Homo sapiens: one gene and its partner. The protein of the gene in region 2 interacts with the protein of the main gene of each other region in a biochemical or structural test. Each region holds a gene or a part of one and is shown on either strand. Other genes may lie near its edges.

Region 1 (4,378 bases), on a different chromosome or scaffold from region 2:
GCGGCCCCAGTGTTTACACTGAGTTATCAGAGCACTCTCAACTTCCTGTATGCTGAGAAGGGACTTCTGAGGAGGACAGTGGGCTCTGGGCTTCCAAGGCCTGGAGCTGTTATCCTCACTAAACAGCTGTGGTCTTTCTTGTCCCTGCTCTAAAGACATTCTCTTTTGGAGGGGACATTCCTGCCAGGACTCCCATCCAGCTCTCAGCAGGAAGAAGTTTCCCATCCTGAAAAACTCAACAGAAACTAAAAAACTGACCCTCTGCTACGGGGTTCCCGAGCATTTGTAGCCTTTCAGAGTTTGACCTTGATTCAGCGGATAAGACAGGGCTGGCCAAGGCCAGCTTTTTACTGCCTACCCATCATCTTTATGCAAGTTCAGGAGACAAAGGGCTTTAGGTGTTACAGGGCCATGGAGGGGCTTGCCCCACACTGAGCCCCTGCTGAAAGCAGAACAAGAAATGAGGTGGCTGGGCATGGATTGAAATGACAAACTGTAACTCTTCTACAAATGTAGAGGTTTATTTCAACAAAATGTGTAAAGAGTGCATCTGAAGCTCCTGCTCATCACAGTATGTGTCCATCAAATTCTGAGACAAGTGAAGGCTGTTTTGTGAACGAAGAGAACAGATAATATGGCGGTCTCCGTCCAAGCAGGTCTTGGTCAATATCCATCATTTATACTCCTCCTGCCTTAGTAGCCTTGCATGTTTGAGGGGCTGTGGGAATGTCAGATTGCTCATGTTCTGTGCCTCCAACTTGAAAAAATCCTTGTCCAGGGTAAGACCTACAGTAAGGAGCTCTGGGGATGGGGGAGGAGGCATTACAGGGTTCTAGAGAGGAAACATACTCGTTTGTGTCATAATTTGGTGGGGAGAGGGGAGGTAAATGAGTGTAACCCACCCTGCCTCTGAAGACATGCCTGGACAGGCCTCCTGGGGGGTGCAGGACTTCATACCACTTGTAGATATGTGGGATTTGATTTATTGCAAAAAAGCATAGAAGAATAATCTGGTCAAAAATGAATCCAATTCTTACTAGGTAAGCAAATAGCCAGCAATGGTCAATGCATTTTCCTGGACTGAGAATTGTCCCCCACCACTTTATGCCCTTTTCTGAAGGTGCTGAACACCTGTACCTTCCACCAGGGCAGCCGGGCTGAGGCTCTGACTCCTGGGGGCTGTCCGCTCCATACCCAGCCATACAGTGCCCACCTGCAACCCAGAACCATTGAAAAGTCCAGCCAATCTATCCGCACAGATTCCTCCTGAAGAAGGGGAGGTGGAGCTCGTTCTTGTGTGCAAACTACAGGGTTAAGGCTCAGAACTGTGGCTTGTCCAAGAACGTTCATACCACTGCTTCTCAAATGTCTTAGTGATTTCCTCCTTGGTCATCAGTGACAAATGCAGTTAGCTGCACTAAAGGAACCGGATGCTACACCAGCCCTGATCACCTGCCACTCTTGCTTTAGGAACAGAGGAATCAGTAAGTTCTTTTCTTGAATAAACTAGTTGTTGAAAGTAAACTCTCTCCACCACCTGAGGAAGCCCCTGATGCCAGTCAGGAGGGGCCAGTAAGCCTGGAGGACAGCAGCACCATGACTGAGTTGTAAATAATCTTAAGGTCATGTGGATTCTGTGTTTCCTGGAAGCCTCCCTCATCAGGAAGGCCAGCTCCTGGTGCTGAGGGTGTAGCTGTCACCAGGGTCCTTTCAGAGCTGTGGGGAGACCTGCTGCCTGTCTACACTCTGGGGAAGAGAGTAGAACCGTTAGCTGCTAGGACAGTAATCCTGGAACTAGGGAAGAGTGAGTGTGGAGGCACCATTAACCTCTCAAAACCATCCAAGCTCCAGGCTTCATAGGAACAACTTTCCAAGTCCTCAAAACAAACAGACTATCTATCTATCTCACTGGCTCTCCACATGGCATAAATAACTAGTTTCCACCAGTGCAGAAAGGGCAGTTCTCTTCTGGCTCCTCCTCTGCCAACTCAGGCTTCACCACCTGTGGAACTGCTGGGGCCCCTCAAGCACTGGCCTTGCAGCTCCCAGCCACATGCGACAGCTAGTCCAGCAGTGACGTGCAGGCGAGAGGCAGGCCAACAACTACCTTTCCCTTTGTCCTCAGAGACTGAACCCAAGGTTGAGGTCCCCTAAATCAAGAATAACTGGTTCTATTTTCTTTCTCTGCTTCTTGGCTCACAGTTTTGCCCTCATCTTTGAGTTCCTATGGAGCTTGTAGTAGATTTTATGCTCTAATTTTTCTTCATAAAAGGTACCGTAGTGTGGTTAAACTGGGAATCATTCCTCTCCAGTGCCTACTGTGTGCTGGGCTAAGAGTCGGGGTAATAAACAATGGACTTGAGGCTTCCTCCTCTCCTTAGCCCTCCTCTGCTGCCTGTGGCTGCGGCTCATGGGGCCAGGAGTGAGGGGGGCTGCTCACTGCTGGGCAACTCCTCACGCTTCCCCATGCTGGGAGGCCAAGGGGCTGTCAGGACAGGAGGGGCAGCCCTACTTTGGTTAGTAAGACCTCATGGTACATGTTTGTACCTTTCATTGCCTTCTCAGTCCTGTGCAGGGAGTGGAGGACTAGGCCTGGCCAGGGTAATAAATACTGAATGGGGTAGGTGTGACTGGTGGGCTGGAGGGGGATTCTGTGATCTTACATCCCAGGATGTCATGCATAACCTGAAACGAGAGGAAGTAAAATGCCATTTGACTCCAGTGCTGGGTCTCCTGTGCCTTCTCATTACAGTGGTTACAGTTGTAAAAGGCAGCTCTAGCCCTTTTCTCCAGAGACAGGGCAGGGACAGGCAGGAAGCTCTTCCTACGTGGAAGGGGAATCCATTGTGGAGAGGATCCGTATGACTTCTGCTCGCTGAGTGGGTGATATGTGCTGCGTCATATGGATGATGGAATCCATGGCAACCTCTGGATTGGCCTGGACCAAGCTGGAAAGGAAGATTGAGAATGGTGAAGAAAAGAGAAGCAGAAGTGTCTAGATGAGGACAGCTAAAGAACTGCCCAATAAACATGTGTGCACCGTCCACTGCAGACATTTTAGTCACGCCTCACCTTATTTGTTTCCCTATATTACAAATATCCAGCCAAGGTAGTGCAAGACAAACCCAAAACATTTTGCTATGTTGAAAAAGGAATTAAACCCAAAACAAAACCCAAAAAAAACCCAAAACATGCCAATGGGGGCATGTCACAAAGACAGCAATTGGGGCATCAAAAGCAGCCCAGCAATGAATTATAAATCAGTAAAAAATAGAACTTCATGAGTCTGTACCAATAATGTATATATAAAAGAATCGGCAGGAGTGAGGACTGAGTGGTGACTGGTAATTGTGGAGGGTGTGCTGGAGTTGGAAAGTTATCATTTTGCAAGCTCATCGTAAAGACTGCACCAGAGGGAAATTTTGATGAAAGCAAGATACTTGCATGGCCTTAAAATGTCTTCCTGCAGACTACTTATTAGGTGCAAGGGGGGAAAATCAGTAATTATACGGTAGAGAAATGGAGCAACATCTTGACCAGCGGATGAAATTAACACGAGGAGGAGCAGATAAACAGCATGTGCCCCCAGATGTGGTGCCCTGTGAAGGTTCTGGCCAGAGTGCCTCACCTGCATCTCATCATGGGGAGACATCAGACAAACTCAAAATGAGCAATGTTCTACAGATGGTAGATATCAGATAAAAGTTTTTAATCAATGTTAAATTTACAAAAGTGGATCATTTTATGATGGTTATGTAAAAGTATCCCTATTCTCAGCAAATGCACACTGAAATATTTGGGGGTAAAGGCCATGATATATGTAACACCCTTAAGTAGTTCAGAAAGAGGAAAAATGTATACACATATGGGAGGGCAGGCACACTCATAAGTGATATAGCAACGGGGAGAAAATGTAACAGGTAAATCTGAGTACAGATATTATATATAGGGGTGTTCTTTGTACTGTTTTTAATTTTATAACTTTTCTGTAAGTGAAATGTTTCCAAATAAACTTTTACAAAAATGCCCCTGCAGTCTCTACCACCGATCCTATGGAGCAGACTGAAGCCTCTAGAAGAATACAGCTAACTCTTGGCTTCAGGAGGTGAGGAGGTGGTTTCCCAGGAAACCACCACACACACAATCAGCTTTCCTCCCAGAGTTGTTCATCCGGTTTGAGTATCAGCATTCAGAGCTAAGAGGTGGGCACAGTGAATTAAGCCTTCATCTAGCTGAGATTACTAAGTGCCCCTGGGGAGCAGTAGCTGAAAAAGAATTGGGCTTCAGGCCATATCTGTACCTGTGGGTCAACTACAGCTGTCTCAAACAGCAAGAGACTGCAGAGATCATAAGATTTCTGCGATCATCTCATGATTTG
Region 2 (7,033 bases):
CCAGCCCCCTGGGCCACTCTCAGCTTGTCTATTCCCAGCAGCAGTCTCCATCAGAGAAGATGGCTAGTGATGCCTCCCTTTTCTAGAAAAAACAAAACCTGGCCAGGCACGGTGGTTCACGCCTGTAATCCCGGCACTTTGGGAGGCCGAGGCGGGTGGATCACGAGGCTAGGAGATCGAGACCATCTTGGCTAACATGGTGAAACCCCATCTTTACTAAAAATACAAAAAATTTGCCGGGCGTGGTGGCGGGGGCCTGTAGTCCCAGCTACTCGGGAGGCTGAGGCAGGAGAATGGCGTGAACTCGGGAGGCGGAGCTTGCAGTGAGCCAAGATGGCACCACAGCACTCCAGCCTGGGCAACAGAGCAAGACTCCGTCTCAAAAAAAAAAAAAAAAAAAAACAAACCTCACTAGCTTAGGAGGGCACTGAAAGTCATCTTACCCACCAACCTTTGTAAAGTTAGAGCTAAGGGAAGCAGTGTCAACTAAGTGCTTCTAAGGCAGAAGCTACATGTCCTTGAAACTCTTCACCTGTGACCTATTTGAGACTGTTGCCAACTCAGTGCTGGAAAGATGGTGGGCCCTGCCAGCTGAGGCGTGCTGTCCTTACCACTGGCCTCTTCTGGGCCTATACCAGGATGGCTACCCAGCTGCAGGGGCACTCCCAGCACAGGAGGTGACCTGAGAAAGGCAAGCCCTGTTGGGTACCCTGTAGGGTAACAAGCACTGAGACCCTGTCCTGGCAGCCCGGCAGGGACCACTGTAGGGACACCTGCATGTGTACACGTGCATTCCTCGTCTCAGCACACATGCCCTCCACTTCAGGGTGGAGTGTTCAGTAGCAGCATGGTTACTTTAAGCACCTCGTAAACAATGCCTCTTAAGAGGTAGCTTGGACCAAGCTGAATTCCTGGATTCCCAAGAATTACGGCTGTGCCATGCATCCCAGAGCTAGGCGGACTGGGCAGGCAATCCAGGTTAGATGGAACAGAAAACAGAATCACAACAGAACTGGCTGTTCTTCAAGATCCAGGAGGACACACACTTCTTTTCTGCATGTAATAATTTCCCGGAGGAGAAATGTGTGTTACCTAGATATCCCAAATTTTGATCCAGGAGTACTGATATTTCTAAAAGCAATTGAATGATTAAAACTAGATTCTAAAATGTGGGGGCCAGAGCATGTAGCTTACTAAGAAGAGATGGTGATACAGTTTGTCATGAAATGTAAATTGAACAGGGCTTAGACTGAGGCAGGCGTGAAGGACAAGGAAGAGTAGTGCAGAAAGGCTTTGCAAGACGAGGCAGCGGTGTCCACACTGGGAACCTCTTGTTATCAGCCCATCCCCACAGCAGAGGTGAACGGCACAGTTCACACTAGGGGGTGACACTGAGCTTGCTCACCAGCTGCTTTGCAAGAGGTGGACACAGGAAAGAAAGCAACTGAACATGACCCACGGCGGATGGTCCGGGCAGATGCCCACATACTTACGGAAATCCCCGTGTCCTTGTTCAGGATGACCTGGAGGAGATGTGGGGGGAGAATAGGGGGTGCCCGAAAGCGCTCTTCGGGTTTGCAGACGTAGGGCTCCTGATGGTAGGGTCCTGGGGGAGAACTGGACAGCTCTGTTGGGAGATGGTAACAGGACTTTACTTTGAAAATCAGGCATTCTAGGAGCAGCCTTACTTATGTTGTCATCATCTCATTTTCCTTGTCTCTTGTTCCCTCAATGCAGATTTACATTCTCTTGAAGGATGCACTGGTTCCAAGAGTGCAGAATAGAGGAGAGGAGAAAACCCTTTTGGAATCTGGGTGACTAGCATACAACTCAGTAGTCAACTCAGATGCCCTGGTGGAAGACACGGCCCAGCCAGTGAGTCTGCGTCAGATCACAAGGAGGCTATTCTCGATAACTTAATCCCACACGCACGGCAGAATAAGACTTCCTTCTCCCTTCAGGCTGGGCTGGCAAAACCACAAAGAAGCTGGAGGCTAAGTGAGGATTGAGTAGCTAAGTCCAAGTTATGGGCACCCCCGGCCGCAATGCAACAGAAGATGAGGCAGTCTGTTTACACAGAGGCCGTGGAGAAAACAGGCTAAACGAGGCACATTTCAAAATGGGGGGGAAAATTGAAAGCCCAATATCTAAAGGCTCTTTAACTCCATTACACTCAAGTTCCTTCCAAACTCTTGCTTGAGTATCTGGATTATTCAGATACACTGAGAAGCTGCTACAAGAGCAGGATTTCATAATGCTAGAACACTGGATAGTGACGTTTGGCCAGCCAGAAGGTACCAAGCCATCATCCAAAGAACGCGTGGGATGGTTCTGGTCGCCAGATCCTGGGACTGGTCCAGGGAAAATCTGCTATGCCCCAGCTCTGCCAATTCCCTCAATGTCATTTTTCAGGGGACAAGCCCCGTTTATGTGACCCAACCATATCACAGCAAGAAACTGAGAAAAGCATGAAGTGCAGAAAACTGAGCCATAAGGAGTAAATAACATTTTGAGGAAGTAAGTGTCGAAACAGAAGTCTGTAGAGAACGTGGAATTAGCTTCGTATCAGTGAGGGGTCCGTTTCCTTTCCCTAGGTGGAAATTTGACTAAAAAGCTTGTAAGTGGCTTAAAATTACATGTATCAGTAAGTTATATATTTTGGAGGATATTTGGGCACACTTCCTCCATTCCCTGATTCTCAACTATCTGCAAAAAAACTAGATGATATCTCTAAAAGACTAATTACCCAGATAAAAGCACAGATTTCGGATTTCCAAGTCCTGCTCAACAAACTGTCAACCACAGTGAGCCCATTGTGATCATTTTACCACTGTGATTTCTGAACTGGTAACAAGAAATCCTGGTGGCAGAACTTCCAGGCCTAACTAGACAATGATGAAGAACTCTCCTGTCAACGAACGGAATCTGTTTTCTTAGGGCGCCAGATATTCTGCCAGGGCATCTTTCCACTGCCTCCCTCAGAGTCCAGGAATTGTTAAGCCCCCGCCTCCAAGAAGGGGAACACTTTAGATCGCAACCCTCTTCCCCCGAACTGTATGAATCATGTTCCAGGTAGTTTCTTCCTGTGGGGCTTGGAGGGAAAGCAATTTATTGAAACCTCGATGCCTGAAAGGCTCTTACAAGATGGAGAAGTTTTACTGGGTCTGTATTTCTGTACCAAATAGCTTCCCATCAAGGAGAGTTGGGCTGTGCAGGCTGTTTCCCGTGGGGAGCCGCATCCTCCCCAAAGGGATTCTGACAAGGTGCTAATGTACCACATAAGTGACTGCTAAGGTCACTGAGGTGTCCATTTACACCTGTCAGGCTGAAATTCTTCAGGCACCACAAGTGGGATGAGACACAGGCTTCCCCAGTGCTGGGCTGTCACTGACTCAGTGCCACCCTCCAGGGCCTCTTCAGCCCTGCCCTTGGCACGAGATCAAGCTATGGTTCCATTTCTGCTGTCTGCGTTCTGTGGCCAAGCAGACCTACTGAATACCTGAGATGACCAGGGAAATGACTTGTAGCTCCCTTAGGGCTAAATTTCAACAACCTGACAGGAATTAAGTTCTGTGGCCTTTAAGTGGGGGCTATAAATGCCTATCTGACTGGGCAGCTTCAGCTCAAGAGAGGCAAGAGAAACAAGAGTATGTCTAGACTGTACAGCCCCCACCTGCACGCATGTGGTATAAAATAACTGTGTTCATACCAGACACATCGGAGCACTTTTGGGAATCCACCATTAAAGCATCAAATACTTCAAAGTCAGTTTTCTTCACTTGAATGATGTTGTTAACTGTGCCAAGCTGGCTGGTTACTATGGGCTGGGAAGAGACAGATAGGCAGAAATCATAACGTGGAAGGTCTGCGGAGTTATTCTTCAGAGGACTTGGAATTCCTGGCTGGAAGGCCTCATCTCCTGGCTAGCCACCCTGCTCATCTTGGTCAAGTATGCCAACTGTCTGACAGGTAGTGCTGCTACTCAGCTCTGCCACACACGGGGACTTTTACTAGCTGGGCAAAGGGACCTAGCGGCAATCTCTTGGGAAGGTGATTTGTTTGGAATGTGCGGGCACCCAGAGGACCAGAGGTGGGAGGAAGAGTACCTCGGAAGGGTCGTGCGTCCACTGACCATCCACAAAGAACTTGTACTGATGCTCTCCTTCCGGCAGATCCAGGATGGCTACAAAGTTATTGTGGCTGCAAGGAAAAAGGAAGCAGAGGACTTCCGTGGGGTGGGCTGCCCCCCGAGCTTACTTGCCAAACCAGCTACAGAACAAAACGTTTCCACATAAAACCAAGAGTTCAGCTGCAGGAGAACAAACATTTTTAGCCCATTTAGACAATTCAGCATAATGACCTCAATCTGAAAAGGCTATAAGGAAGCAGCAGTGCGACACAGTTTCCTGAAAACTCACCTTACTCAAATACCAGGAAACCACATCCCTAATGTTAAAAGGTCAACAGTCAGGCATTTGTGCGTCTCAAGCTCGCAAGGCTCCTGGATGCCAAGGAGGATGACAACACAAGATAAACAGAAGCTGCCTCGTTTTACCCTTTGTCACTTTGCCTTGGGCAGGAGAAGGGATCAATTGAATAGGAAGCTCAAATGTTCTCTAAAGAAACTTGCCTAATGACTGAAAAACCAAACTCCGGAAGAGCCCCTTCACTGGGTTGTTTTGTCCCCTGGCTTGAACTGACCTGTGACTGCTGTGCTGAGTGGCTCCCTCCTTCTCCAATGGAAACGCTGGAAAGCAGGCAGCCCCTGACAATAGGCCTGACACTTTCTCCCTCATTTTATCAAGAATACTCACTAAAGGTGTTCTCTCACTGACAACTTAAGACAGAAGTCCATGCTGGGGTTCCTGATAAAATGTCTTACTATAATCCTTGCTAATGACACCTACATAGCATGTATTTTTCTTTTCTTTTTGGAGACAAAGTCTTGCTCTGTTGCCCAGGCTGGAGTGCAGTGGTGCAACCACTGCTCACTACAGCACTGACCTCTCAGGCTCAAACAATCCTCCCATCTCAGCCTCCCGAGTAGCTGGGGATACAGGTGTGCACCACCATGTCCAGCTAATTTTTAATTTTTTTGTAGAGATGGGGGTCTCACTATGTTGCCCAGGCTGGTCTTGAACTCCTAGCCTCAAGCAATCCTCCTGCCTCAGCCCCCAAAAGTGCTGAGATCATAGGCATGAGCCCCCATGCCCAGCCAACATGTACTTTTCAAACAAAGTATTACGCAGAGTCAAAGTTAGATGAAACCTCAGAGATGATCTGGTCCAATATTCCCTCTTTACAGAAACGAACGCTGAGGCTCAGGTTAACTAACGTTAGGTGACTGACAGCATGGCCAATGTGGGCTCAAATGTGGGTTTCTAAGATTCCAGCCCAGTGCTCCCTTACTGCATTAAGACAGATTTTTGTGTTTCTGTGGAAAAGTCCTGACCGAACAGATAGCTGAGGATCTGAAGTGAAAGATGTCTGTGACACAGAAATATTCTCTTTCTTCTGTACTCTAAACCTAGAGACCACCAAGGTTTAACATTTGAACCTTAAGACTTATTAAGCAAAATTATTTTTCCACTAGGCATCCATTTTATAGAAACATCCATTTTCTGTTCTCTCTCAGAGATGTTTTAGAAAGAAGAGAATTTATGTTAAGACAAATATGTGAACACTCCCCAGGCAATTACCTTCTGGTGAGGGGAAGTTTACTCCAGTTGTTGAAGGACCCAGATAAGTAAACTTCCTTTCCGCCCCCCGTCCATCGAAACACCGTTGGCCGAGCCTGGGCGGGAGCTTTATCATTCACTTCCAGATCATGCTGCCAGGCCAGGAATTCCTCCTTCTCTGGTGCCTAGAAGCAGAGCAGTTTACTCAGAAAGCCATAAGCGAGCTCCCTACAACAGACAATATTGACAATTCATTCTAAAGACGCAGCTGTTACTATCTTGGTTCATGGTTAGGATCGGAAACTTACTAGTGGTGCCTCAGTTTCCTTGCCTGCAAAATAGAAATATATTTTTTAAGGTTGTGAAGACTGAGACAGTCCATGTAAGTGCTCTATATAGTGTCTGACACAGTGAGTGCTAATTATTAGCTATTGTTGTCATTAAAGAAGTTGACATCAAAATTCTAGAAGAAGCTATGAAACACACTTGGAAGGGGCTACTACGAATCCAAGACTAGCTTAATGTCATGTTCCTCCCTTAATCAAGCAAGATTTGAAGTACAGTCATGTGCATGATGTCTTAGTCAACGACGGACTGTGTATATGGTAGTCCCATAAGATTATACCATATTTTTATTGTTATCTTTTCTATGTTTAGATACATTTAAGTACACAAATCCTTAAATATACTTGTGGAATAAGTGTCTACAGTATTCAGTAGAATAACATGCTGTACAGGTTTATAGTCCATAAGCAACAGGTTACACCATATAGACTAGGTGATACGGTTTGGCTCTGCGTCCCCACCCAAATCTCACCTTGAATTGTAATCCCCATAATCCCCACGTGTCAAGGGCAGGACCAGGTGGAGGTATCGATCATGGGGGCGGTTTCCCCATGCTGTTCTCTGACAGTGAGTGAGTCTCATGAGATCTGATGGTTTTATAAGCATCTGGCATTTCCCCTGCTTGCTCTCATTCTCTTCTGCCGTCCTGTGAAGAGGTGCCTTTTACCATGATTGTAAGTTTCCTAAGGCCTCCCCAGCCATGCGGAACTGAGTCAATTAAACCTCTTTTCTTTATAAATTACCCAGTCTCGGGTATTTCTACATAGTAGCATGAGAACAGACTAGGTTTGTGTAAGTACACTCTATGATGTTCACACAATGATAAAATCACCTAATGATGTATTTCTCAGAATATGTCCCTGTCATTAAGTGATGTATGACTGTACATGAAAATTTAAGAGGAACAATTCTAGAGCTGTCAACTTGAAAATAGGCAAATCCAGATTTTGAGGAAGGGAAAAACTACTCACAAAGTTCTGTCTAGGGACTGGGGAATAAAGCAAGACAAA

What was found.
Region 1: of the proteins of PRKAB1 (region 2) and ACACA, one has a biochemical effect on the other in vitro, tested with the Homo sapiens proteins (one study listed by BioGRID).

What each region holds. Positions count from the first base shown.
Region 1 is NC_000017.11:37,084,492-37,088,869, forward strand, and holds the end of ACACA (acetyl-CoA carboxylase 1), read right to left. Parts: intron 2,949-4,378; coding exon 2,825-2,948; 3' UTR 501-2,824; downstream 1-500. UniProt on the Homo sapiens protein: Cytosolic enzyme that catalyzes the carboxylation of acetyl-CoA to malonyl-CoA, the first and rate-limiting step of de novo fatty acid biosynthesis.
Region 2 is NC_000012.12:119,671,131-119,678,163, reverse strand, and holds part of PRKAB1 (5'-AMP-activated protein kinase subunit beta-1), read right to left. Parts: intron 5,864-7,033; coding exon 5,700-5,863; intron 4,201-5,699; coding exon 4,107-4,200; intron 3,825-4,106; coding exon 3,710-3,824; exon of another isoform or gene 1,738-3,709; intron 1,628-1,737; coding exon 1,494-1,627; intron 1-1,493. UniProt on the Homo sapiens protein: Non-catalytic subunit of AMP-activated protein kinase (AMPK), an energy sensor protein kinase that plays a key role in regulating cellular energy metabolism.